Linked DNA regions of Homo sapiens. The protein of the gene in region 1 purifies or fractionates together with the protein of each later gene. This does not show direct contact. Each region holds a gene or a part of one and is shown in the gene's direction. Other genes may lie near its edges.

Region 1 (7,099 bases):
TTGCCCATTTTCCTGGCCTGTGTATAGTGCTTTTAACAGACAGGTTGCTATAGCTAATTAATGGGATTACTATTTGCAAGATTTAAATATCCATCTTGAACATATTCCTTTTTTAAAAATTCTTATTCAGCAACATACTCTTATAAAGAATATTAAGAGCATGTTATATCTTTTCTGCCACTAATGAAGAAAAAAATTAGCATTTGAAATGAATATTATATCAAAATGAGTGTTGCTTCATCATGATACAAGGTAAAGACTTCACCAGATGTCAACTGTTTACAGATTTGCATGATGATTTGTAACTGGTAATAAGTGTGATTTTTTGCCTTTAAGTAAAAAGAAGATTAAAAAAAGAATAAATTTTAATTTAAATGAATGATTAGCTAACGTTTAAGATAAAATTTAGGGCTGATTTAAAAAATCAGTTTCTTACACATTTTAACTTGTTTTACTGTGATACAATGCTGAGTTTACAAAATAAAATATTAGTTAAAAGCAATGTAAGTTGGCAAATTTTTAGAATCCTATAAAATCAGATCCTTGTGATGAAAGATGGTAAAATTTTAAGTTCATCTTTTTAGTACCACATAATTTATTAAGGGTACTTACATTAAAACTAATAATTTTAATATTTGTTTAGTCTGATGATTCTATTTATTTCTTCTTCTGTACTTACAAGAATTGATAACTCTTTACTATCTTCCATTCAAAAATGACAACTTTCCTCATACAGCCTTGATCAATAAACATCAAAATAGTATTTTCCAGTGCCGGATGAATAGTCCTCTGTTGGCTATATGACAATGTGAAGGAAAAAAAAAAAAAAACACCACTATATCATTGTTATGACTTAGAGTTGGCCGTGCATTAAAATGAACTCCTCATTATAAGCATCATTATTTTACACACTTTAAAAAATGAAAATTAAGATTAGACAATTAAATCCTTGGTTCCAGTCACCCACCTCCCAGTACAAGTTGTATTCCCTTGGTTTATTCTGGTATTATGTTATCTGGTCCAGTTGTGAATGCCTTCCATACAGAAAAATGACTGCTTGGGAAATTATTTTATTGTTTAGTTTCCGAATGGAAAAGAAAAGCTTTCTTAATCTTTGTTCTGTATTTTTTTGTAATTTTTTCTTTTTTATGGTTTTTGATTAGTAATTGTAATGCTAAATAAGGCAGAAAGCTTTTTGGAAAAATATTTTAGGGGTTTACATTGTCAGCTTAAAATGTGTAGTTCTTGCCAATCAAATGTATTAAGAAATGTTGGTTTATATAAGACACCGCCCACCTTTTATCTATTAAAGAGCTAATCAATACACCTTGAATGATTTAGTCGTTTAGTGGTAGCAATCAAAGATGAATATAAATGTGTCACAGGTTTGTGATTTTGTAAAAGCTCTAGACTGTCTCTTACCGTTTACATATTCTGTGGACTCTTTTACCTGAAGCTTTACTGGGAAAGATTTGAAAAAAGAATTATAGCTGCACACTCAAGTGCTTACAGTTAAGGCTGTGTCAGCGTTTCTGTAAAGAATCTCATTTCTATCTTAGCCATAAGCATTATTGCTGGTTAGAAGCTGGCATTTAATATCTTGATTTGGAAGTAAATTATTTCAAAACGGCTTTAAAAAATTGGTCCAAATGATTTTGAGTGCTCCCCATATGAGGTTACTGTCTAGGTATCCTTATAGTATGCAGGATGGTGATTTAACAAACTAATTTCTATATTATTGACTTTGTAACTAAATTAGCAGGCACAATCCTATGGTTTTGACTTCCACAATGGTTATAATTTAAGTTGGGATATGTTTAAATGATTTTAGATAACCTTTTCCCAGTTAACATATATATTGTACTGCCGTAAGATTTTCTAACACTATTTCGTCATAAGTATTTTTAATTATGCCAAAATCAGGTGCCCTTTTATAAGTCTTTATTTACTAATGCATTTTTTATTAGCTGTGATTTGATTAATGGTATTGATGACAACTCTATTCTTTATTTCAAAATCCTGCTAAATAAAAAAGGAATCTAAAGCAATTTACAGTATAAGTTGTGGTATAGATTTTCATATTAAAGAAAGAATTTTAAGATGTGATTGACTGAAAACTTCTATTTTATGTTATTTTTTAACTTATGAAAATCTAGATTAAAACTCTCAAACAAGTGTTTGGTTCATTATGCTGTAAGATTGGTATATAATAAGGAATTATCTTTCCTTATAGAATTACCATTAAAAATGAAATTTCCATTATTTAAGCCCAAATGCTGTAGGAAATATTTTTCTTTTTCCTAGTCAGATCATTCACAAAGATCAAATAGTTGTATCTAAAATTGCCATTCTTGTGCTCACTTCAGTAGCACGTATACTAAATTGCCATTCTAGTTAATTTTTCCTTTCTTAAATGGTAAGAGAAATGAGACATTTTATAAACTTAAACTATAATGATAATAACGCTGACTTAGATTTCCATGCACTTACATAATTTTAAGTTTCTTTCACACAATTATCACATTCTATTCTCCCAGTAAGACTAGAAGATAGAGAAGGATATTTTAAATGTTTCCATTCATGTTTTGGGAAGAACAATGAATTTCATGTCAAAAGACTTGGAGTCTATTTCTGAATCAGTCAAACATTCAACAAATATTTGTTCATTATCTGTTTTGATCCAGACTTTACACTGAGACTACAGCAAGCAGTGAGAACATAGCAGTCAACAAAATAGAGTTGGTCCAAGGGTGTGAGTGTGTGTGTATGTGTGCACATGTGCACCTGTGAGTGTGTATGTGTCTTGGGCAGTTCGTTTAACAGCCTGAGAACTTTCATCTATAAAATGAAGTCAATAATGACAAAGTAGATAAAAATTTGTTTTTAACATCTCTCCTTTTTTAATATGTTGTAACAGGGGTTCTGAATTTTTCTTCATATGATTTACATCTTTAGTTACTGTATATATATGTTACATAAAAATGTAATTGTTTTAAATATAAATTTCACATGTATTTTATGCTGTTAACCACATCACAAGTGATGTATATACTTAGAAGTAGATTTAAAACACTACAAGATGGATTACTAGATCTGTGCTTACGGAAAAGGAAAATTTAGTAAAACCAGACAGAGAATTGATGAGCACTTATTTAACATATAATCAGCAAAATCAATAAAAAGTTAAATTAAAATGGTGCATTCAGGGATTTTCTTCCCCCATACCATTTTAAATTGTAAACTAACATCTAGTCATTGCATCAATTTAAATAAACGGAAAATTGACTCTCAGTTAAATTCTAATTATTAAGATAAACAACATTACAGATTAATACTGTTCTTCATCCAGAAAACTAGCAAGTGACTTTTGTGTGCCTGAATAGAATACAGTCTATTTAAATCAGAAATAGTTTTAACTAACTGCAATGGTTTCAGGAGTTCACATGTAAATGTTACAAAATTTTAAAAATAAAACAAACAAAAAAACTGGCATGTGAGACCTACCAAAGATGGAGAAAATTGCCAATGATCCTAACCTTAGGAGAAAATCCAAGTGAAACAGAAAGACTAACTATTCCTGGGATTCAATCCAACTGTAAGCACGTAAATGTCTCTACAAATGAAACTTGACTTTGAGATATTGCTGCTTTTTTGCCACATAAAGTGATTCTAAGGTCATTAAAAACAAAATTTACATAAATTGTGTAAGTCTTTTCATGCAAGAATATGCAAGATTATGATTTTCAAGCTTTATCATATATAATGATAATTTTTAAATCTTATCAATTTAAGTTATATAGCAGGTATATTTATTCGCCCAAAACAGTAATTTAAGAAATAATGTATATTATTCAAAGGGAAAGAACACTTATGTAGTATGGCTGTTAAAAACACATGTGATTTCTATTCCCAAATTCCATTCCTCATTTGTGTGTGTAGACAGCTACTGAAAGTGGTTGATTAGTATAAAAATCTGTATGATCTTTTCAATGGATAATGCATACAATAAACGACTAGGGACCATAAAGCATCATTTAACATTTTGTAGTAATGATAACAGGAATATGTATTAATGAAGTTTTGCACTTGGATAGTTCAAACAGGAGACGATTGGGATTGGCTTGAGGAATATGGCTATGGAAATGGAAAAAAAGATGAAGTTTTCAAAAGCGTGTTTTCCGTAGTCTCGAATTTACCTGTTGCTCCTGTGTTGCTGACTCTCCAGCTTGTATCTCAGTTCCTACCCTGTTGCTCAGGCTCCAAGCCGGTGTCTCCATAACTTACTGTTCTGTTTTACTTGGATGTTTTACTGTTAACTCACACTCAACATGTGCAAGGCCACACACATCTGTGCTGAACAAGTGCCTTCCAACATTCATGGATTTGGATCTTGAAGTCACCACCATCCCATTTTTAATGTTTGGAGCCTTTGTGCTAAGACAAGTGACAGGATGTAAAGCACTACATGGTTTGCAAAATTCTTTCGTGGTTAATCTGTGCATCAGCTCTGAAAAGTAAGTAGAATGATAGTTATTGCATCCATTTTACAGGTGAAGCAACAAAAGCACACCACAGGTTTCAGAGACAGACTGTAGACTGCACAGATTGTAAATTCGAATCATCCACTTTGATGATGAGTGCTGTCTTTCTAGGTACTCATCACTGACACCCAGAGTGATGGACTTGAGGGACATTTCTAGGAAACATCCCACTCTGCTCAGTGACCACTGAGCTAGAAACCTTAATTCATTCATCTTAGCTTTGCCATAAAGTCAAATAAGTTGAATAGAACAAATGAATTCTTGGGGCATTTCTTTAATCTGGAGTTCTATTTAGAATTTAACCTCATGGGCCGGGCGCGGTGGCTCACCCCTGTAGTCCCAGCACTTTGAGAGGTCGAGGTGGGGAGATCACCTGAGGTCGGGAGTTCGAGACCAGCTTGACCAACATGGAGAAACCCCGTCTCTACTAAAAAATACAAAATTAGCCAGGCGTGGTGGCGCATGCCTGTAATCCCAGCTACCTGGGAGGCTGAGGCAGGAGAATTGCTTGAATCCAAGAGGCAGAGGTTGTGTTGAGCCAAGATCGTGCCATTGCACTCCAGCTTGGGCAATAAGAGTGCAACTCTGTCTCTAAATAAATAAATAATAAAATTTAACCTCATGGAGGCCAGTTGCCAAGGGTCTCAGCTTTAATGCCATTTTCATGTTAAGTTAGTAGCCAAGTAATGTGGCTCCAGTTAGGATCAGCAGAGGTTTTGAGAGTTCCTCTAACTTTTCAGGATCTCACCTATACCACTCCAGATGGAAAAGATAAAAAGGAGAGAGAAAGTGTGGGTTCACGGGCTGCTAAACCCTGGTTTTCTAGTGGACAGGTAGGAATATGAGGACAAGCAGGTGGGTGAGGGAACCTGTCTAGTAGGTGCCCAGACTTGTGTAGAATTTGAGAGCATTAATATATAATTTTACTTTACTAGTAGCACATGGCTTTTGCTCTCTTTTTCTTTCTTTTAATGAAAATATGTATTTTATTATAAAAGTAATATTGTAGTGGATGTTATTGGTTCTCCACCCAGATTTCTTTTGGGGAGGCACTTTGCCAGAATGCACTCAGAGCCACAGGTGCCATTCACTTCCTCTGGAAAGCTCTTGACTAGTGACTGACAGATGTCAGAGTATGAAAGCCCAGCTGCCTTGCCCCGACTCTGGACAGCTCCCAGATATAACTGAGGTGAAACAGATAATCTCGGTCTTCCCTGCAGGAGCAGGCTGAAGCTACCCTCTGCAAGACTTTGCCTGAGATCACGCACTTCCATGACTTTTTTCCCATTCTTTCACCAGCTGCCCTGCTCCCTTAGCAAGGCTTCCCCGGAAGTGCTTCTGTTTTAAATCAATAGCCCTCAAATACTTGCTTCAGCCTGTCCTTCTGGGGAACTCCATCTAAGATTTCTGTTTAATTTTTTTTTTTTTTAGTACTACTCAGAATTTCTTTAAGTAGCCATCCTCACCCCTGCCTGCTTTCTGCCACCTCATACCTTATACTCAGGGCATTATTAATAGTTTAACGTATGTCTTTCCAGATATTATGGATATGTATGCTTTTATAATAATTATATCATGCACAGTACCATGTTCTGTAACAAGCTTTTTTAATGCAATAGCATATTTTGGCTACTTTGATAGAGCAACTTATATTTTTAAAGATTCACTGTATTTCATGGCATTGATATGCCATAATATATTTAATCTTTCTAATTAATATTTAAATTGTTTTGAATTCTTTAATATAGTTGTAAGTATACCTGTAACACAAATTCCTAGAATTGAAAATGTTGGTTCAATTGAGAATGTATATATTGAATTTTGATAATTATAAATGTTTTCTGAAATGATTGTACCAATATAAGGTATTACATTGTATGTGCATGCCTGTATCACACTACCTGAATACTGGTATTTAAAAAAAAATTTTTGACAATCTATTAAAGGAAAGTACTTCATTGTTTTTAACATGTATTGTATACTGTATTACTTATCAGGTATATAAAGCATGTTTTCACATTTAATAACCATTTGTATTTCTTATTTTGTGAATTGCCTTTTTAAGTAATTTCCTGTGTTTCAGTTTTTTACAGCCTTTAAATTTTATAGTTTCTTTTTAATATTGCTCACGCACAATTGTTCTTTATTATTCCTGAATATCTGGTACATTATTAGGTTGTTATGGATATCTTTTTTATGGCTGACATTTTAAAATTCATTTTTGCTGGAATGTAAGGAAAACTATTTATTTTTGTATGTTTATGTTTGTATCTGTTCTATTTCTGAACTCAGTTATTAGTTGTAATATTTTTTATTTGATTCCCCTGGATTTTATGTCTAGACAATCATATCATCTGCAAATAATCTTATATTTGACTCTTTTTATTGAACATTATGTCTCATATTAAAATTTACTCTCCTAGAGAACTGTATAGAATCTTCAAAATATTATTGAATAATTCTGAAATTAAGCATGTTCTCATGTTTCCAACTTTAACATAAACTTTACTAAGTATGAAGTTTATTATTTGTTAATTTTTATTTTTATTTTATGTATG
Region 2 (7,784 bases), on another chromosome or scaffold:
GTGTAGCAGATGGTTGCTAAAAGAAATCTGACAAAGCCTGGGGAACTCTGTAGGGTGCAGAGACTTTGACAATGTGTATGAGAGACATTCTCTAGGTATCATTACTTTAGCTCATGTTTTGTTGCATTTTAGTCTTCTCAGCAGGAAGACTGTTTCCAAGAAAAATGTATTATTTATTGACCAGGCGCGGTGGCTCATGCCTGTAATCCCAGTACTTTGGGAGGCCGAGGCAGGCAGATCACGAGGTCAAGAGATCGAGACCATCCTGGCCAACATGGTGAAATCCTGTCTCTACTAAAAATACAAAAATTAGCTGGGCGTGGTGACATGCACCAGTAGTCCCAGCTACTCAAGAGGCTGAGGCAGGAGAATTGCTTGAACCTGGGAGGCAGAGCTTGCAGTGAGCCGAGATCATGCAACTGCACTCTAGTCTGGCAACAGAGCAAGACTCTTTGTCTCAAAAAAAATTTTTTTATTTATTTTACAAACACTTATGTGGTAGTTACCATATATGCCACATATTTATGAGATAGGTACTATTATTATTCCCATTTTACAGATGGGAAAACCAAAGCCCAGAGAGGTTAAATAACTTACACAAGGTCACACTGCCTTGTAAGTGGTAGAGGCAGGACTCAACCCGAGGCAGTCTGGCACCAAAATCCACATCCTCACCCATACTGCAATATTCCCTCGAGGATGTGATACATGAAATGTATCTCTAGTGTTCAAATAAGTAAGGCCAATGCCAGTGAAAAACAAGTCTTTTTTTTTTCTTTGAAACAGGGTCTCGCTCTGTCGCCCAGGCTGAATGCAGTGGTGTGATCAATCATGGCTCAATGCAGCCTCGACCTTCTGGGCTCAAGTGATCCTCCTTGAGTAGCTGGGACTACAGGTGTGAACCACCGTGCCCTGCTGAAAAAGGATTTTTTTTTTTTTTGAGCCAGAATCTTGCTCTGTCGCCCAGGCTGGAGTGCAAGTAGAACAATCTCGGCTCACTGCAACCTCCACCTCCCAGGTTCAAGCAATTCGCCTGCTCAGCCTCCCGAGTAGCTGGGACTACAGGTGCGCCACCATGCCCAGTTAATTTTTGTATTTTTAGTAGAGACCGGGTTTCACTGTGTTGCCCAGGCTGGTCTCAAACTCTTGAGCTCAGGCAATCCGTCTGCCTCGGCCTCCTAAAGTGCTGGGATTATAGGGATAAGCCACCGCATCCAGCCTTTTTTCTTTTTCTTTTTTTTTTTTTGAGATGGAGTTTCGCTCTGTCATCCAGGCTGGAGTGCAGTGGCGTGATCTCGGCTTACTGCAACCTCCGCCTCCCAGATTCAAGCAATTCTCCTGCCTCAGCCTCCTAAGTAGCTGGAATTACAGGAGTGCACCACCACGCCCAGCTAATTTTTGTATTTTCAGTGAGACAGGGTTTTGCCATGTCGGCCAGGCTGGTCTCAAACTCCTGAACTCAGGTGATCCCCCTGCCTCGGCCTCCCAAAATACTGGGATTACAGGCATGAACCGCCGTGCCTTGCTGAAAAACGATTCTTGATAAACAAAAATAAGAGTTGCCTCTATTTCTAGAAATGTGGAGCCCTCAAGAATTTTAATGACAGAATTGGCAGGTGATGGTGTCTGGTGCCTGTAATCCCAGCACTTTGGGAGGGCGAGGCGGGTGGATTGCTTGAGTCCAGGAGTTCGAGACCAGCCTGGGCAACATGGTGAAATCCTGTCACAACTGAAAATATAAGAATTAGCTACTTGTGATGGTATGCACCTGTAGTCCCAGCTACTAGGGAGGCTGAAGTAGGAGGATGGCTTGCACCCGGGAGGTCGAGGCTGCAGTGAGCTGTGATTGTGCCACTGCACTCCAGTCTGGGTGATAGAACAAGACCCTGTCTCAAAGAAAAAAAACAAGAATACCAGAATTATTATTTAATTCAGCACCTCTTGTGTGCCAGACACAGCGCTAAGTGCCCTGCATACTTTGTCATTGAACTATACCAACAATTTTCTGAGAAGGGTTCAGATATGATTCCCATTTCACAGATGAGGCTTATAGAGGGGTTAAGACATTTGCTCAAGGTTACACAGCAAAGCCTTGTAGACCTTTTTTTTTTTTTTGACGGAATCTCGCTCTATCGCCCAGGCTGGAGTGCAGTAGTGCAATCTTGGGTCACTGCAACCTCTGCCTCCCGTGTTCAAGCAATTCTCCTGCCTCAGCCTCCCAAGTAGCTGGGATTACAGGCACCTGCCACCACGCCCGGCTAGTTTTTGTGTTTTTAGTACAGACGGGGTTTCGCCATGTTGGCCAGGCTCTTCTCGAACTCCTGACTTCAGGTGATCCGCCCGCCTCAGCCTCCGAAAGTGCTGGGATTACAGGCGTGAGCCACTGTGCCCGGCCTCAGTAAACTTCTTAGTGAGTTCCTAATAGTTCCCTAAGGTGAGGAGAGAAGAAAGTTCCTGCTGCTCCTGCTGCTTGCGTCAGCCTCCCTTCTTCCTCCCCAGGGCTGCAAGTGGAATTCATCAACCCCATCTTCGAGTTCTCCAGGGCCATGAATGAGCTGCAACTCAATGATGCCGAGTTTGCCTTGCTCATTGCTATCAGCATCTTCTCTGCAGGTGTGGAGGAGGGGCAATGGGAAACAGCAAGAGACTTACACCAAGGAGGGCTGCAGGTCCCACAGGAATCGGTGGGGGGAGGGGGGTGGTGGCTTGGGAGGGTGGAGGCATTTGCTGTGTTATTTTAGGATGAGAGAGCTTGGCTGGAGCATGTCTCTATATTTTGGTTGCAATTTGGGGTATGGAACTGGACCCTGGCCAGACCTGCTCCTCAACTCTCTTGGTGACCTATAGACCGGCCCAACGTGCAGGACCAGCTCCAGGTAGAGAGGCTGCAGCACACATATGTGGAAGCCCTGCATGCCTACGTCTCCATCCACCATCCCCATGTGAGTCTCCCCATGGTGTTCCTTTTCCTCCTTCCCACACACAGGCCCATTCCCTGACATACCTACTTTCCCTTCAAGAATTTCTCTCTGACTGCATGCTGTGCAGACAATTCACCTCTCCCACAACTCCCCTACTCTTGCCCCGCTTCCCTGGGGACAGGCAAAAGCTGTGTTTGTCTCTCTCCTTTCCCCAGGACCGACTGATGTTCCCACGGATGCTAATGAAACTGGTGAGCCTCCGGACCCTGAGCAGCGTCCACTCAGAGCAAGTGTTTGCACTGCGTCTGCAGGACAAAAAGCTCCCACCGCTGCTCTCTGAGATCTGGGATGTGCACGAATGACTGTTCTGTCCCCATATTTTCTGTTTTCTTGGCCGGATGGCTGAGGCCTGGTGGCTGCCTCCTAGAAGTGGAACAGACTGAGAAGGGCAAACATTCCTGGGAGCTGGGCAAGGAGATCCTCCCGTGGCATTAAAAGAGAGTCAAAGGGTTGCGAGTTTTGTGGCTACTGAGCAGTGGAGCCCTCGCTAACACTGTGCTGTGTCTGAAGATCATGCTGACCCCACAAACGGATGGGCCTGGGGGCCACTTTGCACAGGGTTCTCCAGAGCCCTGCCCATCCTGCCTCCACCACTTCCTGTTTTTCCCACAGGGCCCCAAGAAAAATTCTCCACTGTCACTCTGTGGTATGGCCATAAATGCCTCAGCGCCGCCTCACTGATAGGTCTGGTACTGTTTGAACAGGAAGATCAAAATGAATACAAAATGAGAGAAACCAATTTCTGGATTGGGGGTGGGGACACGGTAATAGAGGAGGAAGCCTGCGATCTTTAGGATCCGCCTCCAGGCCCAGAGGAGGGAGAGTCACAAATGACAGCCTTGGCCGTGAGAGGGGGCCTCTTCTTACTAACCCCCACTGCGCCATATGGGTAAATGGAATGCTGAGGCTTAGGCGCCCCCTTCCCCTGCTGGGATCCGGGTAGGATCCGGTTGCCTTTCTGCGGTGGAGGAGGAAGTGTTGGATTTCAGCGCTAAGGCGTCGGCGGTGCACCTCACGTGCATGTGTAGCATGCCTTGGTTTTTCCTTTGGCATCTGAAAAAGGCACAACCTGAAAGACCTAGAACCCAGTGTCGGTCCCCAGGCCCTTTGGGACAGGAAGAGAAGAGCCGTGTGGCCGCGGGGAGGATGTCCTGAGGCGGGGCTGTCCTCGCGGACTGACTGGACTCCATCTCCCAGCGGGCGCCGCGGCGCGGCCACGCCCCCCCACTCCCCGCGCGCGCCCGGTGGAGGTAACCGCGGCCGCGCGCCCCCCTCTGCCCCCGCTGCCCAGGATTGGTAGGCTCCACCGCTCGGCAGCCGGCTTCCCTGCTCGGACGCCGAGCACCGCCAAAGCGCGTGAGTGGGGGGTGGGGACTGGGGGATGGGGAGCCCGTCAGGAAGTCTCAGGGGCCGATTATCTTGGGAAGTGACTTTCAGAGGAATCCCCATGTCGTCGAAACGGGCGCTATGACCCCGTCGGGTGAGAGTCTCTCTGAGCAACCCAAACAGAAGGTACTGCTGTGGGTCCCCCACTTGGCACGCGACGGCGCTGGGTCGGCCTGGCGCGCCCTCCCGCGCCCACGGGCGCTAGGCTAGGTCTGTGCGCAGCCGCTGTCTCCCGAGGTCGGCCCCGCCCCGCGGCGCTCGGCTCGGTGCAGCCCCGGCCCCCCGGGCTGAATGGTACGGCCCCGGCCCCGGCCTCCCCCTCCGCACCCCGCGCGAGTGGTGCGTGCCCCCCAGTGCAGACGCGGAACTGGCGCCCGCTCGGAGCGGCGCCGCGCTGGGGAGCGACTGACGCCCCGCTGCCGGGGGACGTCGGGCTGGGCCTGGCCAGTCCCCCAGAGCTTGGGAGGTAGGAGAGTCTGGGCCGGTGGGGTCCTGGGCGAGCGTCTGGGGACTCCGAGCGGGAGACGGGCTCTGAGAGGACACCGTGGCTCTTGGAGGAAGGGGTCTCTCAGGAGGCCCTGGGGGAGTGTGAAGGGGCGTGGGGACGGGGGTCTGCCGAGGAGGGGCGGGGACGGGGATGGGGGCGCCCCGGGCAGAGGAGGGGGCTCAGGCTACTGGGCTTGGTTCCTGCCGAGCGGGCGGCTCGGGTTCAGGTTCGGGGCGGGGGCGGGGGCGGGGGAGAACTGTCCAGCAGGTGAGGGGGCGGGCAGAGCTGGCCAGCCCTGGGGCCGAACCCGCACAGCGCTTGGCGGGTGTGCTTGTGCGTGTGCGTGCTTGCGCCTTATTTTTGGCTAGAATTTGGAGAAACACGTTTGGTTCTCAAGAAATTTTTTTTTTAACTTGATATTTCAAAATTGACTTGCTGGAGAGAGAACACCATTTCATCTTTCTGCAATCGCTCTCCTCCCCATCCTCGTGTATCTACCTTCTTCCACCTTTCCCTGCCCTCCCCTCTACCCCAACCCTGCCAGCTGCCAGCCTCCTTGCTCCAGTTCTCCCATACGCTGGACCAGTCTGTGCTGATGAGCTTGCAAGGTCACTGCCTGGGGAGGTAGAGGAGGGGAGGAGAGCCTCCTGTTGTGTTCACGTCAGCAGAGATGTCATATCGCTCTCTGGTTCCTGTGGTTTTACTGTGAGATCCTGTCCAAAATGAGGGACGAATCCAAAGGGTTGGTTAGCATGGCTATTTCTGCTGAAAAGGCATAGATAACTTAAAAGTTTGTGAATCCTAAATCTACCTCTGGGTGGAGCTGATGGTGATGTCGGACTTCAGCAGATAGATATGCATTTTGAGCTGGATGCTTTTGGAATACAGGAAGATAGGAACCAGAGGCTCTACGTTAGTAAACATGGTTGAGGCAAGAGGCAGAGTCGGAGCCTCGTTGGTTGTGAAGACAAGAGTGTGAGTTGTGGGTGATGTTAGAGGATTTAGTCTTTAGAGGAGTTAAAGGTGTTAGTCTTTTTGGGGAGGGGAGAGAGGAGAGAATGAGAAGGAAAATCTTAGTTATCTTTGCAATCTGAATAACTGAAGGCAGTGGCTGCTGATCAGATGTGAACTCTGGCTAAAAATTTATCCTACCACCCGTAGCTAGAATAATAACAAGATCTCAGGGTCCTTGTGGCTCTGGAAGGAAATGATTGTGAGTGACTTGAGTTTCGTCAGATAGTTGTCAGTGGAGAGGGACTGAGATCCCACCAAGGCTAGAGAGGCCTGATGCGTACTCAGTAGGAGGTGCTTCAGGCCTGATCTTTGAGATTTTGGTTGGAGAGGGCTCCGGGTTTTCAATGTAAACATAGATTGCAAGGTGTAGTCTAGAGCTCTGGTTCTATAAATTCTGTTTTACTTTAAGATACTTTGGCTCTCACTCTAGTCATTTCTACATAATTCTTTTTTTTTTTTCGAATCCCATGACAGGTTAACTACATAATTCTTTATTAAAACAAATTATGCTTTTTACTCATATCCCATTTCATTTCTCTATTTCTCTCCCCCTTGGATTCTGCTCAGGAGGAGCTGAGTGCGGCTCTGTTATAGTGCCCCACCTCCTGCAGTTTGCTCATGACTCTATTGCAGTTGGGAGAACCAAGGGACTATTTGGGTTCGTTAAGCAGTGGTGATACCTAGAAATGAATATATGGCGTGCTCAGAAACCTGGTGGTGTTCTAGAGATATCACTATCAAAAGCCAGAATTAGGACGAAGTACAAACTACAGACAGATGAGGGAGAAGACAACCTAATTCTTAGCAGGTACTGTCAGTGGGAGAAGTGTCTCTAGGTTCGAGGAGAGTGAATTGTTATGGGCCTTGGCTGACTCTGGAGTAGCAGCTGCTAGCACTGTGCGGTCACCAAGCAGGGGAGGGGCTGTGGCTCTGCTATAAATAGTGCTGGGAGCCAGAGTCGCTATAGAGATAAAACTGAATCCTATTACCTGCAGGTCCTCTACTGGGAGCAAGGGAAAGGAGAAAGCAGTATTTTGAGGATTTGAGAGGTATTGCAAATAGGTCTTGTTTATTGTTAGGTAGGGGAGAAAAAACTTCTACTCATTACCTAAACCAAATAGGGCCTTAAGCATCCAGGGAGTGTGTATGTCTGTATATATGGGAGTGCCCGCAGCAGCAGGTGAGGGAGTAGAGGGTGTGTGTGTGTATACGATAATGGGTTTCTCTCCGTGTGCATTGAACAAGGTCTTAGGCCGCATGTAGAGCACAGAGGTAGAATCCTGGAACACTAGAAATATGAGAAAAGAACTTCTACTCATAGAAGAAGTAGCCCTACCAGAAATAGCTGTGCAGCGGGGTGAAACGTTTTATTTAGAGAAGTGTATAGACACTTAACACGAAATAAATTATAATTAAGACCATGAAAGCTTTTCCTAATTTTAGGACATAGTTTAGAAATTTCTCTGAGCACGTCTCCCTGTCCTTGCAGAAATCCTGGTATTTCTGCCTCTAATTCATAGCCTCTGTAATGTATAGTAGGACAAGGACTCATCTGTGGGTATTGTATTACTGATTCTGAGCCTGAGATCAAAATAGAGGAGAGATTATGATTCAGCACCAAGGGCAGAGCTAGTAGCAGTGGCCTCTGGGCTCCTTTCTTGCCTGAAGGAGGGAGAAAAGTGGTGCAGATTAGGCAATTGGGGCATGGACATTTTCATTTGAGATCACATGAGGTAGAATAGCCAGCTGTTATTGTCTGAGCATGGTTAACTAGACAGTCTATGTGGTAGTTTTACATCAAGCTGAATGTAGATTGTTGAAACAGAATAATTAAGTTTCCATCTAGACCTAGAAGTGCAGGTTAGTGCTAGCTAGTTGAGGAGTCTGGTTTGATCCTGATCCACCCTGGAGGGATC
Region 3 (7,211 bases), on another chromosome or scaffold:
AGCCATATGTTACTCAATAATAAATCCATCTTGAAAATTCGCCTATCCTTATGATGAGTTTAATTAAGTTTTGCATTTCTAGACTTTTATTTCAATTTTATTTTTTATTTAAAAATAGTTACTTAGAGATGTTGTATTTAAGCTGTCCACGTCAATTAATACAAATGTTGTTCTGTATATTTTACAGCAAGCAAATGGAAAGGCCAGTTTCAAAACAGGTTTTCTGGCTTCTAGTCCAGTGCTCTTTCTTCTTCCCCACATAGACTCCCATCTGAACATAGCTTTGTCTGGAAAGTCTGGGCGCTTGTGAAGCCATATGTTACTCAATAATAAATCCATCTTGAAAATTCGCCTATCCTTATGATGAGTTTAATTAAGTTTTGCATTTCTAGACTTTTATTTCAATTTTATTTTTTATTTAAAAATAGTTACTTAGAGATGTTGTATTTAAGCTGTCCACGTCAATTAATACAAATGTTGTTCTGTATATTTTAGGCAGAAACAATTGAGCCGTTCGCAAGGGGCATGAATTTGAGTTCTACATTTTCTGACCTAGTAGCAGTGATACATTTTTGATTAGTAGTGTTTCTGGCAAGAATGAGACCTATAGCCAATGGCCAAGGGACATGAGGAAGCAAAATAGCAGGTCGTCCATAAATTTGGTCTTATGCCACAAGCTTATTAAAACCAAAAGGGAATTTGTCCACAAAGACTGACTCTCTTGTTTTACAGTTGAGAAGACTATAGTTGCAAAACATAAAGAGGATTGCTGTAAGTCATAATTTAGTGGATGTCAAAACCGCTACTGGAACCCACCTCTTGGTTAATGAGTCCGTAGCTGTTTGTCCTCACCCCTCAGTGCTGCTCTGAAATCGATGAAGTTTTGTGTTTATGGTCAAACCATGGTTTTGATGCCACTGAAGAATAAGCATTTGTTGAGAATGAATAAAGATGTTTCACAAGAAACTTCAATAATTCATCTGTAAGTATTTTAAAAGTGTCTATAAGGCAATCTTCTCTATTGGAATCTTATGACCCGGTGGAGAAGCATAAGGAAAATGAAATAAACTATATAATGAAAACTATAATTCTCAAAATTTAACTAGATGTATTTTTAGTTCCAGTCTGACCTCCAGTCCTAGACCTACTAGGTATTAGGTATTTCCTACTAATAGGTAGTAGTTAGGTAATAGTTAGGTAGACCTACTAGGTACTAGGTATTAGGTATTAGGTATTTCCACCTAAATACCTTGCCTGAATCATAAATTAATTACATTGCTTCCTTTATTTTAGAAAACAAGTTCTCTAGTGCTTAATCTTAGTCTGTGAGTTTTAGCAATCAATAATTTTAACTCTAAGTTGATATGAGACAACACTTTGGTATGACTTTAAAGTAGCAAACAAATTTAAGAATGTATTTTAAGGAATATTTTGCCCATGGTATGTATAGGAAGCGTTATAAGGCTTAAGGAAGTAAGAAGTGAAGTGTTAAGCTCGAATTTTGTAAAAAAAAAAAAAAAAAAAAAATCACATTTGCTAACTTATTCTTCATGAAATTGAGTGATATTGAGAACGCTGACTGTAAAATAATAATTTTCTTGCTATTTTAGCATTCATATCTTTTAACACTGAACTAGGAGCCTAAACAGAGATGATCTTCATCAATAATATTTGCTCTCAAATAAAAATTTGACATCTCATTGTTTTGTCAATGATCATCAATGTAAAATATATTTAGCCAAATGATAGTTTGAGTTACCTTCTATTTGATTTACAAGACAAATAACTAAGACATTTACCAAAAAATAATAATAATCTCTAAAAATCATTCTATCACTTCGATCAAGGCAGACAAAATTAAAAAGTCAAAAAGATTATAGTTTATTGATTTCCTTAGGCTATGTAAAAATAAATGTGGTCCTGTATTTTTCTTACCATGAAACAAAATATTGAACTCTGCCCTTGAGGCATACTACCATACTTCAAATGCTGATCTTATCATTGCTTGCAAGTCAAACAGAGTTGGACTTTAAAAGGAGGAAAGGAAAACCCTGGAGCCACTAAGAAGCATCAAGGGTCAAGCTGTTAGTCTGGTTCTGCTCAGAATTTACCCAGGGTCACAATGCCTGGATAAGGCCACTTTGCTTCCAGATGACATTTTTCAATACAAACACACAACCAGAATTTGAAATTTACTATAAAAAGAGCCATATTCTGAAATTGGTTTTCTAGTTTACTTGGCATCTTATTTGTTTTAATTTGGAACAGGAAATAGCAGAATTTCCCCCCATGTTCCGCATTTTGAATTCTGTATGCGATAATAAATAATCATATAAATTATAAAATAATAATGACAAAGCAAATAGGAAATTGGTAAAGAGTTAGATGGGGGATTTTCTAATGTATTTAAAGTAAGGGCCACATCCCTTCTATGCTCCTGGATGCCCATTTTGTAATAAATTGTGAAATGTATCCATCAGTTTCTAAGTTGTAGTTAAAAGCTCCTCAAACAATGCACAGCACACAGAATAATCTTAATTAATATTTAATTAACTAAATGTTACTTGTTTGCGTGCTTGCACACTTGCTTGGATGAGTGACTCCTTTAAATTGATCTCTTGCTTCTTTTTGAAAGATTTTAGAACTTCCTGTCTATGATTCCTGGAAACGGACACCACTCAGTAGGTTTCATGGAAAGGAATCTGGCATCTCCCAGCCATACTTATGTACAGAGTTTGTGCTGCAGCCTGGAAAATAGCTGTAACTGTGTCAAGCAAGGATCAAAATCCTGGTCTGGAGGAGCTCAAGCTGAAAACACAAAGGCTTAAAAGGATAGGCACTTCTTACTGAAATTACTCCCATAGGCACCTTCTAGCTTCAATTTAGACTGAAATGTAAAAAGACATTAACAATTTCTTATATTTCCCTCTTTTCCAAATTCAAAATCCCTTGGAGCAGGAAAAGGGCAATTATGGCTAATTATGACTATTACTCCAATTCTATGCTCCTGTTAGCAATCAGATTTGCATTACTGGAGAAAAAAAATATTATCCTAAATAAAACATTCTGACTATGATTGCTTAGGAGCCAATCCGAAAATGATTAAGTTTAAATTACAAGGGATCTTTTTTGAGGGGGGGAGGAGAGTTGATAAAAAAACCTTTTAGAAAGGGAATCTACACACTACTAAAACCAAACAAACACAAGGGGGCAGGAAGAGCTCAAGCTCTGACTTCAAAACCTGTTGGCTGAAATGAGAGCTAAACTATTTTAGTGTGCCCTCCGGATATTTATCAATTTTCGTGGCATGCAAAGAAATGTGATGCTGACAAGTAGATTTAGTTTGTGCTTGGTCTAATTACTGCGAAGAGAACAGGAACGTCTCTAATGACAGCTACCCTAACAGAGTCGGATTTGGGAGCGCCTGGGGCCACATTCCCTAGAATTTATTCTTTGGTGCAAGACTAGCAATTCTGATCAGACTGCATTTCTCACGCATTCCAAATGCCCTTTTTCCCTTTTACTCTGTGAACCTCGGTTGCAAAGGAGGGGCTTGTTAAAAACTCACCAATCGGAGGACTGTGCCCATTGTAATTCACGAGGAGAAGGCAGCGTCTGGGCGCGCCGAAGGGGGCTGGGCTGGAGTGCAACCTGCTCTAGCTATGGCTTTTAATTCCAGCTGTCCTTTTGCAAATATGCCCCAGAATTTCTTCTCAAACGCTCTGGGTTTCGCTTCAAACTCAAAAAGCATTGCGTCTAACTTTCCCCTGGGTTTGCAAGTTTCCTTGGGAAATGGCCATGCCCTGCGCGGGATTTCATTGACTAGGGCGGAGGGGTGGGGGTGGCTAAAATGGGTAACCCTCGGTCGCCGGCAGATGAAGTGAACCCAGCACAGCAGTGTGTTCCGGCTCCTCTGCAGGAGTACCAGATCTATTAATAGCAGCCCAGAGAGTAGCGCAAGCAGGGGTGGGCAACTCCTGGCCACTTCTTCCCTCACTTCCAGGACAACCTGTTGCGCCTCTATCTCCTCCCCTCCCCGCAGTTTCCCCGCCTTGGCCTCTAAGAGCTGATTGGCAGAAATTACTACCCAACCCTCAGCTCCGCACCTCCTCCCCCGACCAACGATTGGCCACCTGGGAGGACTGGAGTAAGGGGTGCGAGCGGAGGGATTTCCCTCAAAGCCCAGGGTCCGGGGACCTGGAAAGTAGAAGTGGAGGGATTCAATTCTCCGCGCGATTGAGGCGCTAGCGGCGGAGCTGGACGGCCTGGGAAGGCTTCGGCTCCTCGGCTGCGGCTCCAGCCCGGACGGCGCCGCGCAACTTTGCCATCCTTCTGGCCCAGCCCCGGCTACAGGAGGACCCCGCGGGCAACGCGCGGAGTTCCTGGCACTTCCCGGCGGTGTCTCTTGTTGTCTGCCCGGGGACCGACTTCGCATGCTCTCAGGCTGACCTGTCCAAGCCCGAACACCGGGACCATGCACTCAGCCGGGACTCCCGGGTTATCCTCGCGCCGGACAGGCAACTCCACCAGCTTTCAACCAGGACCGCCACCGCCGCCCCGGCTGCTGCTGCTGCTGCTGCTTCTCCTGTCACTGGTAAGCCGCGTCCCGGCACAGCCCGCTGCCTTCGGCAGGGCGTTGCTGTCCCCTGGTCTCGCGGGGGCTGCAGGGGTCCCTGCTGAGGAGGCCATAGTGCTGGCGAACCGCGGACTCCGGGTGCCTTTCGGCCGTGAAGTCTGGCTGGATCCCCTGCATGACCTGGTGTTGCAGGTGCAGCCCGGGGACCGCTGCGCGGTTTCGGTACTAGACAACGACGCACTGGCCCAGCGACCGGGCCGCCTGAGTCCCAAGCGCTTCCCGTGCGACTTTGGCCCTGGCGAGGTGCGCTACTCTCACCTGGGCGCGCGCAGCCCGTCTCGGGACCGCGTCCGGCTGCAGCTGCGCTATGACGCGCCCGGAGGGGCAGTAGTGCTACCACTGGTACTGGAGGTGGAGGTGGTCTTCACCCAGCTGGAGGTTGTGACTCGGAACTTGCCTCTGGTCGTGGAAGAGCTGCTGGGGACCAGCAATGCCCTGGACGCGCGGAGCCTGGAGTTCGCCTTCCAGCCCGAGACAGAGGAGTGCCGCGTGGGCATCCTGTCCGGCTTGGGCGCGCTGCCTCGCTATGGAGAACTCCTCCACTACCCGCAGGTCCCTGGAGGAGCCAGAGAGGGAGGCGCCCCGGAGACTCTCCTGATGGACTGCAAAGCTTTCCAGGAACTAGGCGTGCGCTATCGCCACACAGCCGCCAGTCGCTCACCAAACAGGGACTGGATACCCATGGTGGTGGAGCTGCGTTCACGAGGGGCTCCTGTGGGCAGCCCTGCTTTGAAACGCGAGCACTTCCAGGTTCTGGTGAGGATCCGAGGAGGGGCCGAGAACACTGCACCCAAGCCCAGTTTCGTGGCCATGATGATGATGGAGGTGGACCAGTTTGTACTGACGGCCCTGACCCCAGACATGCTGGCAGCCGAGGATGCTGAGTCTCCCTCTGACCTGTTGATCTTCAACCTTACTTCTCCATTCCAGCCTGGCCAGGGCTACTTGGTGAGCACCGATGATCGCAGCCTGCCCCTTTCCTCCTTCACTCAGAGGGATCTGCGGCTCCTGAAGATTGCCTACCAGCCCCCTTCTGAAGACTCTGACCAGGAGCGCCTCTTTGAACTGGAATTGGAGGTAGTGGATCTAGAAGGAGCAGCTTCAGACCCTTTTGCCTTCATGGTAGTGGTGAAGCCCATGAACACAATGGCTCCGGTGGTCACCCGGAATACCGGTCTTATTCTCTATGAGGGTCAGTCTCGGCCCCTCACAGGCCCTGCAGGCAGTGGTCCGCAAAACTTGGTCATCAGCGATGAGGATGACCTAGAAGCAGTGCGGCTAGAGGTGGTGGCTGGGCTCCGGCATGGTCACCTTGTCATTCTGGGTGCTTCCAGTGGCAGCTCTGCTCCCAAGAGCTTTACAGTGGCTGAGCTGGCAGCCGGCCAGGTGGTCTACCAGCATGATGACAGAGACGGCTCGCTGAGCGACAACCTGGTGCTTCGCATGGTGGATGGAGGAGGCAGGCACCAGGTACAGTTTCTGTTCCCCATCACCTTAGTGCCTGTGGATGACCAGCCACCTGTTCTCAATGCCAACACGGGGCTGACACTGGCAGAGGGTGAAACAGTGCCCATCCTGCCCCTTTCCCTGAGTGCAACTGACATGGATTCAGATGATTCTCTGCTGCTTTTTGTGCTGGAGTCACCCTTCTTAACTACGGGGCATCTGCTTCTCCGCCAAACTCACCCTCCCCATGAGAAGCAGGAACTTCTCAGAGGCCTTTGGAGGAAGGAGGGGGCATTTTATGAGCGAACAGTGACAGAGTGGCAGCAGCAGGACATAACAGAGGGCAGGCTGTTCTATAGACACTCTGGGCCCCATAGTCCTGGGCCAGTCACAGACCAGTTCACATTTAGAGTCCAGGATAACCATGACCCTCCTAATCAGTCCGGGCTACAGCGGTTTGTGATTCGTATCCATCCTGTGGATCGCCTCCCTCCGGAGCTGGGCAGTGGCTGTCCCCTTCGTATGGTGGTACAGGAATCCCAGCTCACACCACTGAGGAAGAAGTGGCTGCGCTACACTGACCTGGACACAGATGACCGAGAACTACGTTACACAGTGACTCAGCCCCCCACAGACACAGACGAAAATCACCTGCCAGCCCCACTGGGTACCTTGGTCTTGACTGACAACCCCTCAGTCGTGGTGACCCATTTTACCCAAGCCCAGATCAACCATCATAAAATTGCTTACAGACCCCCGGGTCAAGAACTGGGCGTGGCTACTCGAGTGGCCCAGTTCCAGTTCCAGGTGGAAGACCGAGCTGGGAATGTGGCTCCAGGTACCTTTACCCTTTACTTGCATCCCGTGGACAACCAGCCACCTGAGATCCTCAACACCGGCTTCACTATTCAGGAGAAGGGTCACCACATCCTGAGTGAGACAGAGTTGCACGTGAATGATGTAGACACTGATGTTGCCCATATCTCTTTCACTCTCACTCAGGCACCCAAACATGGCCACATGAGAGTGTCTGGACAGATCCTGCATGTAGGGGGTCTCTTCCACTTGGAGGACATAAAACAGGGCCGAGTTTCCTATGCCCATAATGGGGACAAGTCCCTGACTGATA
Region 4 (7,793 bases), about 67 Mb from region 1:
TTGATAAGGGTGTGAATTTCTATGGGTTTCTATGGGAATTATTCAGCTCTGGTCTTTTGATTCTGAGGCTGAGTTGTCCAACATGGTAGCTGGTAAGCACATGCGGCAATTTACATTTAAATGAATAAAATTAAATACAACCTACAGTTCAGTGACTCACTCACACTAGCCACATTTCCAGTGCGCAGTAGCCATGTGAACAGCACAGAGACCACCGTCCTTGCAGAAGATTTAATGGAGAGTGCTGTTTTAAGGGAGAGGGTTGACTGGGTCTTTTTGATACGCTTATTGCCTCAAAGGTAGAAAAATTAATGTAGCATAGGAAGATCAGACTCATGCTAAAGCCAGGCAGACTGGAAGAAGCAATAGGGCTTCTTTAGGTTCTTTTTCCAAGGATTCCAGGGAGGTCTGAATGAATTTTGCACATTTTGCTGCTGCTTTTTAAATTTTGTTTCATAAGGGCCCCTCCTACCAGATCCAGTGTTTGTGTCTGAGGAAGAAATGAGATATACACCCAGTATGGAGTGAAGGAGATTTCAATACTTTATGGAAATCTGTAAGGATTCCAGAAACCCACCAAATAGAATATACTAGAAATATCAATTTAGAATAGAAATGTCAAATAGAAACTACTGGGCAATATTCAAGTGTGCTGGAAAAAAAAAAAGTTGATTGTTTAAAAGGCGAGTAAGAAAAAAAAAAAAACCCTTAGTGACCAGAAACCTGGACTTTGACATCAAACAAAAGAGAGAATAATAAATTAGGACCTATTCCATTTTAACTGAAGCTTTGCTTCTGAGACAGATGTAGCTAAACCTTAACTAGGGCAGTGTGTTAAATTACAGATTAAGATGCAATTATGCCTTAGATCTTTCCTTTTCAGGGTGAGAGCTTATTGATGTTAGGGCTCCGATAAGGGGAAGCACCATGTGACACGTGATATCTATTGTGGAAGCATGAAACTTCTGGAGCTTTTAGATCCTGTGTTCCCGAGAGGCAAGACCTAAATCTCTGTCTTGCTCGCATACCTCTGGCATAGTCATGCATCCATGAACATTTCGTAAGTACAGTGGGATGAACACAGATGGAAAAGCATACCTGAAACGAACCTCTAGTAACCACCAATGGTTGAGTGGGCTGGTGATGAAAGGTCTGGCTCCAGCTCATAAACCCATCAGCCGCTACTTTGAACATGTCCCTGCAAAGCTCCTGCCTGCATGAGGCGAGGCTTTTGGTGTTTTCAAATTGGCTCTCTGCAGTTGCTGCTAAAGGTCACAGGTAAATCTGGGAATTCCACCACTGCAGCATTTTCGAGAACTTGTTCTTGGTGGTTTTTCCAAGAAACCTGAAACATCTGCCCCATATTGAAAAGTACCCAGAGAGGAAATGTGAAGGAATGCTTGTCCAGGTTTCCTTCAACGGAAGAGCATTTATGGAAGGCTGTGTGTAAATAGAACACATCAGATCAGAAGTTCCCAACTACTGGTCTGTGGAGGCTTTGCATCAGAATCACCTAAGATGTGTGTTAAAAATACAGATTCCCAAAGACCACTCCAGACCCAAGGAATTTCACCTGCAGGAAAATGGTTCCCAGGAATCAGAATTTTTAACACTTCCTCCAGGTGATGCTGATATACCCTAAGGTTTGGGACTGTCTAGCTGGGAACACTTAACTTTCCACAGGGGTGTGGCTTGGTAACAGCTTTCTCTTAGCATCATTTACCAACCTGTTTCATGTTCCCCCACATCCCTTCCCGTCAAAGGAATGGAATGTGGAGTGGATTATCTAGTATTATTTTACAACTAAGGATAATGACATGAAACATCCTAGGTGAGTCAGTGATGTGGCCAGGAATCTCAGCTTCGCTAATTAGCTGTTATCTAGTCAGCTCAGTGTTTTTGATCACAAACCCGATTTTTGACACTGGCCTTTAGGTAGGCAGGCTTCCCTATGGGCCAGGGATGTGGACTCACAAAATACTGAAAAGCACGGTGCCTACCTAGCTCTTTACCACTATACCTCTGGTGGAAACCAGACCAACTGCAGTCAAACCCTGAGATCCCAGTCTAGAGGGAAACAAGACTGGCAGGTCTGAGCCAGTCCCAGTGTGAAGAATTTCCCTAAAGATTTGTTTTCCATGTGGCACATGTGAGATTTGTGTTTAGTTCCCAAGAGTCCTTGGAAGTCTTAGGTTAAAACAATTCTAAGCCCTCTCTGGGCCGGTGGGGTCTTGTTCAGAGTAGGCTGGGGAGAGATCGGCCTCACTCTGAATCTTCCCTGGTCTGATAAAGCACTTTGAACTCCTTGGAATTAAAAGCACCACCAGAAGTGTGACCCTGGGTGGTGTTACCATTATTTATTGAGTGCTGCCCCCTAGAGGATTGAAAAATGGTCTGGCCGCTTGAGTCCCCAGGGATGGAAACCTGAGACTCACTCTCTGTCCAACTGCAGGAAATGAGGCCTTCACTCAAGGGGAGTGGGAAGTCTTGCAGCCCTGGTACAGAGGACTCCCAGGAAGTAAGTGAGCGTCCCCTGTAGGACACCGCTGAAAAATGAAAAGTTACAGTGTAGGCAACCAGGCCAGGAACAAAACTGATTCTTACTTTTCTCTACTCTGGAAGCAGCCTGATGGGGACCTTCATCCCTGAGACCCCAAGACCAGAAGTCCAGGGTTGTCATTCTTATGGTTCTCCAGTGGGCTTAGGTTTACCTTTTCTCTCTTCTTTCCCCCTTTCACAGTGCCCTTCACCTAAACCCTGGCTACATTATTCTCACAAACAGGAGTCTCCCACATTGGGCACTGGCAAAAATGGTTTGGCATGCCTGGTGAGTGGTGGGGAGAGGTGATATTAAATGGCCCTCTCTATTCAGGGACTGTCACTACAGATAGCGTTCTTTGTCCTTAGATTAGCATCTTGGCAATGACATAAACCGGGATCTCTGCTTAAGGTTAATAATCCAAACTGCTCTTTTACTTTGTTAAATATTTAAGGCTTGGAGTCATTCTTTACAATTGAGCTTTAAAGAGGAGAAATGTAAATCTGGAGTTTTTAATAATGTGGATGTGCTCTCAAGCCTAGAAAGGAAGGAAGAAGGAAGGAAAGGAGGGAGGAAGAGGAAGGAGGGAGGCAAAGAGGGAATGAAAGGTAGCATTTAGGCTAGCCAAGAGACATGCTCCCTGGAAGAACTCAGAGGCCTCTGTGCTGTGCCTTTCCCAACCAGGCATCTGAGATTAACAGTGTGATACTCAGCCTGTGGATTTCCACTCTAAAATCCCGCGCCACCCCCCAACACAGCTTGGCTCAACTATTTGCAAATCACTTCTGATTCAATTTTGTTTTGGTTATCTCAGTGTAAATAACAGTTAAGTGGGAGTTACAGATTTTTCAAACACTAAAAGTGATAAAGCTAATGGGCAAGTCCAGATAAGGAGGGAAACCACCCAGAAGAATCCACAAGTACAAGCCAAGAAGAAAATGGGTAGTCAGGTGTGTGTTTCTCGTCACCGAAACTGTATTTTTCTTAATCTACAGAAAATTTTACTTTCTTAATTTAAAAAAAATCTTAATCTGTAAATATTTTTCTGAATTTTCTTATTTTTCATATACCTCTTTTGTGGCAGAAAAGGTGTACATGTGCAGGGTGTAATTTAGGCTGTTTCTGTTGCAGTCTTTATGATAATGTAGTAATAGGTGTCTGGTGAAGCAAGACAGTTTGGAATCCACAAAGCCATCCTCAGAAACAAAGATACAAGTGTTTCCCCAACTGTTAGCTTGCAGTTCCCTCTAAACAGTTTTCACGCCTCCATTTAAAAATAGTTGGCATAATGATGTTTTCTTTCTCTAGGCTTTGTGACCACGTTTCCATGGGGGAAAATGTGAATAGACGTAGTTACAGTAGCATTTGGATGAGACGCCTTCAAGCACCTATACTTTTTCGGGGGAACTTGATGGAATCCAATTTAATTACCTGAAGAAATTATTTGCTGAAGAAAGTCTTTCCTCTTTTTAGGGTAGTTACAGTTAAAGGCGCAGGGGTAACGAAATCCTAACCCAGAGAGGAGCAGAGCATGTTTGGGACATAACAAAGGATCTGAGTAGTAAACGCAGCGAGTGTTTGGGGTTTTATTCAGACCGGGCTGACGGTGTGTGTCGCCGCCACGCACCGCTGCCTGTTCGAACGCATGGCTGAGCTGCCGACCGGCTCGCTACCCCAAACACCGTACGCCACCCAACTCCTCTTGTAACGCCATCGCGCGTGGCATTGTGTTGGGTTCTGCGTGTGTGGCATCGGAGTCGTGGAATTTAGGGGGAACAAGGCTTTTCCCCCCGTCCCCCCGGGGTCTCCCTTGGGTGGGGGCGACACGGCCAAGGCGGCGCGCCCTGGGGGTGCCCGGGGGCGCTTCTTCCCCAGGGCGTTACGCACCGGCGGCCCGGCGCGGAGGTGCGCGGGGGCGATCGGGAGATGCGGGGCGGGCGAGGGGTGGTGGGATGGGCGCCGCCTTAACTTCGATCCTGCGGCGGCCCGAGAGAAGCCGTCGCCGCCCCGCCCGAGCTGGGTGCCGCGGCACTCTGCTCTGCGCCGCGCGTCTCCGCGGCTGCCTCTTTAATCAGGAACACAGAAGGGGCGGGCCCTGAGCCGGCGCGTAATCGGATAGCTCTGCCGCGGCTCTGACATCCACATGCTGCTCGGCCTGAAAAGGCAGTGGGGAGCCGGAGGGGAGGCAGAGATCGCGAGCGAGGCACCAGCCTGCAGCCGGCCCCCAGCACATCCTCAGCCGCACAGACACTCGGCGAGGTGGAGGTGAGGGCGGGCGCCAGCGAACTCGGAGAGGGGCTCGCTCACTCCCAGGCGATCCCAGCCGCCACCGCCGCCGCACCAGCAGCAGCAACAGCAGCAGCAGCTTCCTTCCTCAGACTCCCCTCGAGAGGCTGGCCAAGCGGGTGTAGCCGTTGGGGGAGGCTCCCGCCGGGGGAACCCGGCGAGGACAAGAGCAGGGCGGCCGCCTTCCACTCGGGCTGTCCGGCGGCGGCTGCCTCCGCCCGTGTGTCCGTCAAGGGTGCCGCGGGATGTGTGTCAGTTTACGCCTCTGAGATCACACAGCTGCCTGGGGGCCGTGTGATGCCCAAGGCAAGTCTTGGTTTTAATTATTATTATTATCATTATTGTTACGCTTGGCTTTCGGGAAATACTCGTGATATTTGTAGGATAAAGGAAATGACACTTTGAGGAACTGGAGAGAACATATATGCGTTTTGTTTTTAAGAGGAAAACCGTGTTCTCTTCCCGGCTTGTTCCCTCTTTGCTGATTTCAGGAGCTACTCTCCTCCTGGTGAGGTGGAAATTCCAGCAAGAATAGAGGTGAAGACAAGCCACCAGGACTCAGGAGGGAAACGCTGACCATTAGAAACCTCTGCATAAGACGTTGTAAGGAGGAAAATAAAAGAGAGAAAAACACAAAGATTTAAACAAGAAACCTACGAACCCAGCTCTGGAAAGAGCCACCTTCTCCAAAATGGATATGTTTCCTCTCACCTGGGTTTTCTTAGCCCTCTACTTTTCAAGACACCAAGTGAGAGGCCAACCAGGTAAGCCACTGAAAGTTTTTCTATTTATTGCAACATGGTTTCCCCTTTAAAAGTGACCGCTAAAGCAGGAAGGCCACGCAGAACGGCACAGAAGAAGGCTCCCTCAGTACTCAATAATTTAAAGAGAGATCCCAGCCGGCCCTTCCTACACCACCACGGCTGCTAAAACCCAACTTTCCTCTCCTGCTAGGAGTGTGTGTGTGTGTGTGTGTGTGTGTGTGTGAGTGTGTTTTGAAACAGAATTTGGCGGTGTTCATATGTCACATATGGACTGAATCAAAGGTTTAAAAATACTACAAAGCCTTTGCATTACAGTTTTTGGGAATTTTTTTTCCCTGTCTTGAAGCAGAACACATCTCCCTTGAGTTTCTCCAACTAGCCAGTGAAATATAAATCATTTGCATTCCCTCCACTTAGCTACATTGAGCAATGTTAACTGAAGGGCTTGGGAAAGACAAGAGTTTAGTTTTGGTTTTCAGATGCTGTAGATTCTTTGGAGAATGACTGGTTATGCTTCAGAATCATAAGGCTCAGGCTGGTGGAGCAAGTTGGCTTGTGGCTGAGATAGGGGCTTGGGGTTGGGTGCTGCTGGCAACCAAGACGGTTGGTCTCTTCTCTCTTCATCCATGTGTTGTCTGGGAAAGTAAATCGTACGTTCTTTTAGAAATTATTATTAGCTAAAACAAATTGCAGGCCCTCGAAGGTCTCTCACTCTTGTGAAGTGGTTAGAAACTTTTGAGTGGAATTTGTTCTCAACCACTGCCAAAAAGGGTGTGTGGACAGGCTGCTGTGGAGATAAGCATTTCGAGGCCCAGAACAGTCTGGGGACCGCATTTGTGGGGAGCGGCAAGGGGTATGCTCTGGAAAGGGGAATCCATGGGGAATGCAGTGGGGTTTGTGCTTCCTTCTCGGACCACTCTCTAGAGTGAGCCTCCCTACCCCTCTGAGAACAGTGTCTGGAATCTAACAACAAAACTCTTAGCAGCTGCTACAGGTGATTGGAGATGGAGAAACCATCTATGGAGGAAATGGGTGAAAGAAAGGCGAAAAAGCCTTCCTGAAGTGCCCTCACCCAAGGCACTTGCAAGGCGATGGCGGCAGTGGTAGAGCTAACTCTGCAGCCTCCTTGGCATCCCCAGAACATCAGCTAGTGGATCCTAGCCTTGCATCTGGTACTGTCACCCTTCCTTCTCCTCACGCCCCCCACCAGCACACACACCACTTTAAGCTTGGGCATTTATTTGAGGGGGGAAGAAAATTCAGGAATGCCTTTGCCACCCAGATCCGCACGTTTGCAGCTCTTTCTTTGCCATAAGTGGTCTTCAGGGCAGCTGCAAATCCTGCCAAAGGGATGGGTGGGGGTCCCACTTGGGGAGATTTTCTGGGCCTCCGCCGTTCCCCCTTGCCTTATTTCTAAATTCCCAGCTTGAAGCGGAATTAAATTACCACTCACAGACCTGGATGCTGCGTAAATTATGTATGTTTGTGTGATTCGCTGTGTGTGTGTGCACACGCGCGCGCGCCGTGAGGATGCCCACAGTATATTATGTATTCAGACACGGACTCCAGTAGGCCCCAGCGCGCGAGCGCGCACACACTGGCACTCACACTGGCGCGCACACACATGCAACTTCAGGTTCCGTGTGCTGTGCGGAGCGGGAGGGGTCGTGAAGACTCAGGGGCCATCTCCTACCCCAGATGTTCGCACATCTGTCCCCGAGCGCTGCTTGGAGTGTGTGTACGTGTGTGCGCGACACCCGCTTGGACCCACTCCCGCTCTGCCACCTGCCTGCCGCGCTCTCTGCAGAACCCCCTCCCATCCCAATCCCCAGCAGTGCTGCGTCACTTCCAGAGAAGCCCAGAGGCGCGGAGTTCGGGGCAACCTCGGACCCGGGGTGGGATCTCAGGGTGGGATTCGAAGCTGGGACCTGCCAGGGACCTCCAGCTCCCCAAAATGCGATCTCAAGCCGTGAGCTGCTCAGGCTTTCAGGCGGAGCAAAGCACTGGCACCCTGGGAGCCGGCAGCGGGTGGCCAGGGCGAGGCCAAGCCACATACCTCTGACTCACCCGGTGTGCGCCGGCCGGGAAGGGGGCCTGGTTCAGCCGCCGCCGCCGGCGACGAGAACCAATTCTGGGAAGGAGCAAGATGGGGCAGAAGGTGCGCGCGGGGGAGCAACTGAGCAAATAACACGGCGGTCGCGGCG

What was found.
Region 2: the proteins of NXPH2 (region 1) and MADD purify together in Homo sapiens (affinity purification with mass spectrometry; 3 studies listed by BioGRID and IntAct, with this or other methods). This does not show direct contact.
Region 3: the proteins of NXPH2 (region 1) and FREM2 purify together in Homo sapiens (affinity purification with mass spectrometry; 3 studies listed by BioGRID and IntAct, with this or other methods). This does not show direct contact.
Region 4: the proteins of NXPH2 (region 1) and NRP2 purify together in Homo sapiens (affinity purification with mass spectrometry; 3 studies listed by BioGRID and IntAct, with this or other methods). This does not show direct contact.

Annotation. Positions count from the first base shown.
Region 1 is NC_000002.12:138,770,348-138,777,446, reverse strand, and holds part of NXPH2 (neurexophilin-2 precursor), read left to right. Parts: intron 1-7,099. UniProt on the Homo sapiens protein: May be signaling molecules that resemble neuropeptides and that act by binding to alpha-neurexins and possibly other receptors.
Region 2 is NC_000011.10:47,265,414-47,273,197, forward strand, and holds the start of MADD (MAP kinase-activating death domain protein), read left to right. Parts: upstream 1-4,719; 5' UTR 4,720-4,833; intron 4,834-5,243; exon of another isoform or gene 5,244-5,567; intron 5,568-5,665; exon of another isoform or gene 5,666-5,829; intron 5,830-6,548; exon of another isoform or gene 6,549-6,697; intron 6,698-7,784. Other genes in the region: NR1H3 (oxysterols receptor LXR-alpha), read left to right, coding at 2,500-2,613, 2,848-2,942, 3,137-3,283. UniProt on the Homo sapiens protein: Guanyl-nucleotide exchange factor that regulates small GTPases of the Rab family. Converts GDP-bound inactive form of RAB27A and RAB27B to the GTP-bound active forms.
Region 3 is NC_000013.11:38,682,871-38,690,081, forward strand, and holds the start of FREM2 (FRAS1-related extracellular matrix protein 2 precursor), read left to right. Parts: upstream 1-4,206; 5' UTR 4,207-4,474; coding exon 4,475-7,211. UniProt on the Homo sapiens protein: Extracellular matrix protein required for maintenance of the integrity of the skin epithelium and for maintenance of renal epithelia. Required for epidermal adhesion. Involved in the development of eyelids and the anterior segment of the eyeballs.
Region 4 is NC_000002.12:205,677,775-205,685,567, forward strand, and holds the start of NRP2 (neuropilin-2 isoform 2 precursor), read left to right. Parts: upstream 1-4,726; 5' UTR 4,727-5,516; coding exon 5,517-5,589; intron 5,590-7,793.